Homo sapiens: one gene and its partner. The protein of the gene in region 2 purifies or fractionates together with the protein of the main gene of each other region. This does not show direct contact. Each region holds a gene or a part of one and is shown on either strand. Other genes may lie near its edges. The genes, in order: DNAJC10 and ZNF304.

Region 1 (3,183 bases), on a different chromosome or scaffold from region 2:
TCACTGCTCTCCAAGTGTTGGGGGGAAAGAATTTTAGCTCCCCAATTCCCCCTACCCTCCTCCCCAATAAATGCAAATAATATCCTTGCAATGCCAACACAGCTTTAAAAAAATTCCCCTCACCTTGACTTTGACCGGATGGCCCTTCCATACTCTAGAGCTGCTGCTGCCAGTTTAACATCTATACTGGTTAATTTCATACATTCAAACACCTTACTTCATTTTCTTATCCATCTGCTGTAGCAATGTCACAAACTGGAAACCCCAGGCTGGATATGGTATTGTTTGACCCTCATATATTTAAATGTTTTAAGTAGTTGTGAACATTTGAAATATTTTACATAAAAACCCGGATTGGGGTAAATTCTGGGTAAACTGGAACATCTGGGTCTCTTTCTTCATGACAATACTCTTTTGGAGCAGAGAAACTACTGCCTTTTTAAAATAGTGCATGCACTAACTACCGTCATGTACTTTACCTACAAAACACCCTTAACTATGTGAGTTTGCAATGCCTGACTACAGCCTCACTTCACTCTGGAAGATAAGGACATTCGTACTTCTACCCGTCCTTAACCTGGGTCAGTGTATATAATTATTTTTATGTTGTTAAGCTGAAAATTGGTGACACAATTTGCATTTTTGTGACAAGTTTATTTCACTTCTACATGTTATAAAAAAACATAGCTCACTGCAAAGACAAACAGTAGAATCAAATCTAGAATGACATTTCTTACTCTGTAAGTTTAATGTGGTCATCATGCAAAGGAGAGAATCTGAATGGATTATTTCTATCCTTCATCTATTGTTTCCTATGTACTCAAATTTTTCTGAGGTCCGCAAATACGCATCTGACTTATTGCCTCATTCTTTCTCCTCAGAGACTTCTTTCCCAAGCTCTCTGCTCTCTCGCCCCATCTGCCCCAGGTGATGTTTAGGCCTCCTACTTAGCTGCTGTCCTGTGGATTTGTTCACTGCTCTCTTGGGTTGGAGTCACTGTTTCTTGGATCCCCATGCATTGTTGTTTATGCCTTCATTTGGAGGAGGTGTTTCATCACCTAACCACCTAAAAATATATTTATCATCTGCCTGCTACTTGTTAGTCTGGGTAGGTATGAATAGAATCCTAGGTTAAAAATATTTTCCTCTCAGAATTTGGAAGGCTTTGCTCCAAAGTCTTCTAGAATACTTCAAGCTCCAATTACTTTCTAATTGTTATTTTTTTGTAGGTAGTGTGTGTGTGTGTGTGTGTGTGTGTGTGTGTGTGTGTGTGTGTGATGTGTTTCCTCTCTGGAAAATTTTAGGATTGCTAAATTAAATAAGCAAGAGGACCTTGGCCTGAGGCTGTCTCCAGACTTTGAGTTCCCATGTAATAAATTGCAACCTAATTTAGTACTTAAATAAACTGAAACCTAATTTAGGATTATATAGATATATTTTTGTAACAGATAGGTCACAGCCAATTGCATGCTGCCAACTTGCCTTATTTGGAGCAGACCATGTCCAAATAAGGCAAATGCCTATCTGTAACCAATCAAGCTATTTCTGTACTTAATTTTTGTTTTCTGTCTATGAATGTTCACTGCATACCTCGCAAAGCAGAGCTCTCTGAATGTCTTCTGGTTCTCAGTGCTGCCTGATGGATGAATTGTTCTTCACTCAAATAAAATGTTAAATATATTTTGCTGAAAGTTTCTCTTTTACCAGGATCTTCTTTTTGGTTCTGGAATTTCACAATTTCACTGTGAGTAGAAGTTGAAGTCCTTACAAAAGTTAGAAAGCTAAAGTCCTTACAAGTGACCTGCAAAGCCCTCTATGATCTGGCTCCCCACTTTCTCTCTCCCTCTAACTTCATCTTCTCTCCTGCTAGCTCACTCCATTCCAGCCACATGAGCCTCCCTGCTGTTCCTTGAACCTGCCAAGCATGCCTTGGAGCCTGTCCTCTGGCCTTTCTCTCTGTTCATATGCTCTACCCTCAGCCCATTTAGTGGCTACATTTTTTCCACCTCCTTCAATGGCATCTTCTCCAAGAGACCTGCCCTGTCCACCCTATTTAATACCGAAACTCTCCTGCTGCTGCCCCCACACTCCTAATCCCTCATACCCTGGTCTACCTTTTTCTTTATTTCACAGCACATCTTCTAACATACTTCTAACATACTTAACATTTGCTTATATTAATTGTTTATTGTCTATCTCCCCACTGCGAGAATAGAATCTTCATGAGGTCAATACATTTAATACACTATCTTAAATGCATAGAACAAAGCCTAGCACATTGTAAGTACTCAAATAAATGTTTGCTGAGTGACATGGGGCTCATGTTGAGCTCATGTAACTTCCTCATAAATGATTTCTATTCAGGAAGGCCAAAGGAAAGATGACAAGGAGGATTACGATGTTCCATTAGCGGAAGAATTGAGTCTAACTTCACACACTTCTCTTGCAGATAAACTGGTTTGAGGTTATAGGCCTCTAATTTATCAAGAAAGAAACTGGCATGCATTTAGATGGACTGCTTAAGCCAATAGGTCTGTAATCTGTGGGGAGCAAAGAGGTGTTCTTTCAAACAATGAGAGGTTAAACAATACATTTATCAGATGGGACTTTTGTGAACATTGAGGGACAAAACAGGAAGCTGAAAAGGAAACCAATCAATTCTACCAGGGTTTATAACAGCTGTAATGAAAAGCCTTGGGGAAGGAAAGAAATTGGAATATATCCTCTTCATTATTTTTTGTACCTCAAAATGTTATCCTGTTCCACAACCCTCAAAACCCCTCACAAAGATAACCAACTACTGTAATCCTCATTTAATAAACATAGACTTCAGATAGTGCATTTAATTCTAATGAAACTTGTGCAAGATTATAGCATGGAGATAAAAAAATAATTGTTCACTGATGGTATGCAAGCATTTGTGAGGATTACTTATAAATTGACTTGAGCATCTCTTTTTTCTTTAATTTACTCTTTGAACATGTATTGAGTGTCAAGATGATGGCATGAAAAGTGAACAAGATTGTGTCCTGGCTTTGAAAGTTCATGCACTCTAGGACAGGGAAACATACTAATCAACAGGACTGAACTTATAAGGTGTTTCAGGATCCAATTCTCTGATTCTCTAGATTATTGCATTGTTTAGAGTTAAATTTAAAATGTGTATCTTCAATATGTTGTAAA
Region 2 (3,393 bases):
GATTTTTTGGTGTTGCACAAGTGTGTCTTTACGGCTGAAGGCCTTCCCACATTCACTGCACTCATAAGGCCTTGCTCCAGTGTGAATTATCTGGTGCTGAACAAGTGTGTCTTTGCAGCCAAAGGCCTTCCCACATTTGCTGCACACGTAGGATCTTGCTCCTGTGTGGACTCTCCGATGTTTAATGAGGCTAGAGTTATGGCTAAAGAATTTTCCACATTCTATGCATTCATAGGGCCTTGCCCCGGTATGAATTCTCCAGTGCTCAATAAGGTGGGAGCTTTGGCTAAAGAATTTTCCACATTCACTGCACTCATAAGGCCTTTCTCCAGTATGAAATCTCTGGTGCTGAACAAGTGTGTCTTTACGGCTAAAGGCTTTCCCACATTTGTTGCACTTATAAGGCCTTTCTCCTGTGTGAATTCTCTGGTGCTGAACAAGGTGGGAGCTTCTGCTGTAGGCTTTTCCACATTCACTGCAGTCATAAGATCTTTCTCCAGTGTGAACTCTCTGATGCTGAACAAGTGTGTCCTTGCGGCTGAAGGCCTTCCCACATTCACTGCATGTATAGTGTCTTTTTCCAGTGTGAAATTTCTGGTGCATTTTTAGGTGGTGCAAGTGAATGAAGGCTTTTCCACACTCCTTACACACATGAGATATTTCTCCACTGTGGATTTTTCTGTGATTAATAAGAGCTGATTTCTCCTTGAACACATTTCCACATGGTAGGCATCTGAAGGGTCTCACCTCAGCATGAGTCATCTGGCTGTCAAGAAGAGTAAAGGTGTCCAGGAAGGCTTTCCCTTCATCACCGCAACTGAAAAGCATCTGTCCATCATAGTCTCCTTGGTGTTGCCTGAGACTGGAGCTGTGTGGGAAAGACTCCATGCATTCAGTCCTTCTGCATGGACTCACCCTATTGTAAGTGGTCTGGTGCTGGAAAAGGCCAGAGCTATCTGGTAAGTCCATCCCTTCCTCCCTGCACGTAAAGGATCTCCCTAACATGTGGACTGTACAGCTCTTCACAAATGAGGCCCCTCCATCATCCCCTCTGAAGCAATTCTCTCCATTATGTTGCTTCTGGTGCTGGTAAAAGTTTGCACTGAACGAGAATCTTCTCCTACACAGCCCACGTGTGCACAGTTTCTGTGTAAGGTGTGATCCCTGGTGTTCAGCCAGGTGCAAAATGTCTTTCAAGAGTGGGTCACACATCTCACATGGGTGTGCTTTCTGGAAAAGACCTGACTCAGCAGTCCTGACCTGTGACACTCCTTCTACAGAAACGCTCTGCTCAGAAGGTGCCTCATGTTCTGCTTCACACCAAAAACCTGAAAGCAAAAAAGAGCTGGTGAAGTGCATGCTGACTTTGGTGGGAGGCAGCAGCCCCATCACAAATGTGTGTCTAACACCAGTGCGAGTCCACTGGCTTGTTGGCAGGACAAGAGGGCCAGGATCAGTGTAAAGAAGGGCTGGTTGTCAGTATAGGGCCTCACAGAATGGAGGAACCCTGACTATGAGGTAAAGACCTAAAAACAATGGCATAGAGTATAGGGAGTATAGGTGAAGCCTCTACCTGATTCCTCTGCAAGAGAGTTTCAGCAGGGCCTTGGCCGCTGGTGTCAGGTGAGCTCTGTGCAGATGGGTATGTCCATGCCCACGAAAATCTGACTCCAAATAAGTAGCTCATTCTCACGGACTATTTAATGTGCAGAACTCATGACACATTAAAGTAAGCTAGTGTTGAAGAGAGCAATTGAAACACGGAGGCCAGAAAAGTGGGAAAACACCCAAAGGATGGAAGACACGTGAGAAATGACAAATGGAAAAAGTGCCAAGAATGAGGAAAGTAAAGTAGATGTGAAGAATCACTATGGGCCTTGGCAACAAAACACTGACAAACACAAAACAAGTTGAAGGTTCGATTTGAACCCAACCATAACAGATACCCTCTTCCAGCTCCCATTCAGCAGGGCCATGCCCTCTGTAGGTCTCCTTTACTGTGGCTGCAGTGATGTCTGCCCTGTCAGGCACCCAAGGTTTTCTGCCCCCTCCAACTGCGCAACTGCATGGGACTGGGAAAATGAAAGCTGTAACGCAAACAAAGGGCAGGTGAGTGGCGCAGGTAGACCCACTCCACAGAGAAAATAGAATGTTTAGAAAAAATACTCTCCAAGGCGGATGTACCAGGACAGCCCTGTAATCACCACAAGAAGTGACTGTGTCAGCCCCTGAAATTCCTGGCACAGTCAGGCCCCAGGAAATGTCAGCCAGAGGATGAGGGCAGAATCTAGGACAAAGAGGTGCAAAGATCATGACACGGACTCAGGCAGTGGGCACCTGAGCTGTGTAGAATCTGCTTAGCAGACTGAAAAACTCCCGAATCCTAACCTTTTCCTGCAAAGCTCTAGGGCAACAGATGTTCAGATTACCCAGTGAAGGCAGAAACACTGAACACAGCCAGCCCTAGAACCCACAGCACCTACTCTGGGAAACAAAGAAGGGAAGGAGAAGAGTCATGGATCTGGATGGACAGAAAGAGTGGCCCATGGGGAAGAGAAGAAGACTCAAACCCCACCAAGGACACCGGAGTGGGTGTAAAGGCCTGTGGAACACAGCCTCTGAGATGGTCCCAGTGATCCCTACCTCTTGGTACTCTTGCCCCTGTGTAAGCCTCCTCACTTGATTGTAAGCTGGATGGACTTACTTATTTCCAAGGAATAGAATATGGCAAAAATAATGAAATGACACTTTCAAGATTAGGTTACAATCCTGGGCTTCCATCTTGAACATTCTTTTGGTCACTTGCTCAAAGAGAAGTTAGCTTCTGTGTCATAAGGTACAATACAGACAGGCCACCTGAGGGAGGACTTTGGCCAACAGCCAGCAAGGAACAGTGCTCACAGTCCAACAAGCCACAAGAAACTAAATCTTGCAAAAAGCAATGTGAGTGAGCTTGTAAGTGGATTCTTCTCAGGTAAGACCACAACACTGGCTGAGAGCTTGATTAAAACTTCATGAGAGCCAAAAGCACCTGCATAAGAAGGTGTGATCAGGCTGGGCACACTGGCTCAAGCCTGTAATCCCAGCACTTTGGGAGGCCAAGGAGGAAGGATCGCTTGAGGTCAGGAGCTCTAGACCAGCCTGGGCAACGTAGCAAGACCTTATCTCTACAAAAAGTAAAATAGCCGGGCGTGGTGGCATGCACCTATAGTCCCAGCTACTCAGGAGGGTGAGGTGGGGGGGATCACTTGAGCCCAAGAATTTGAGGCTGCAGTGAACCATGATCACAACACTGCACTGTAGCCTGGGTGACAGAGTAAGACTCTCTGAAAAAACAAAAAACAAAAAACAAAAAAAAAACCCTCAAAATAATAAACAACAAAAAATGCTCTA

Evidence for each region.
Region 1: the proteins of ZNF304 (region 2) and DNAJC10 purify together in Homo sapiens (co-immunoprecipitation; one large-scale study listed by IntAct). This does not show direct contact.

Annotation. Positions count from the first base shown.
Region 1 is NC_000002.12:182,791,915-182,795,097, reverse strand, and holds the end of DNAJC10 (dnaJ homolog subfamily C member 10 isoform 1 precursor), read right to left. Parts: 3' UTR 634-3,183; downstream 1-633. UniProt on the Homo sapiens protein: Endoplasmic reticulum disulfide reductase involved both in the correct folding of proteins and degradation of misfolded proteins.
Region 2 is NC_000019.10:57,353,965-57,357,357, reverse strand, and holds part of ZNF304 (zinc finger protein 304), read right to left. Parts: intron 2,088-3,393; coding exon of another isoform or gene 1,947-2,087; exon of another isoform or gene 1,574-1,946; intron 1,329-1,573; coding exon 1-1,328. UniProt on the Homo sapiens protein: Acts as a transcriptional regulator and plays a role in gene silencing.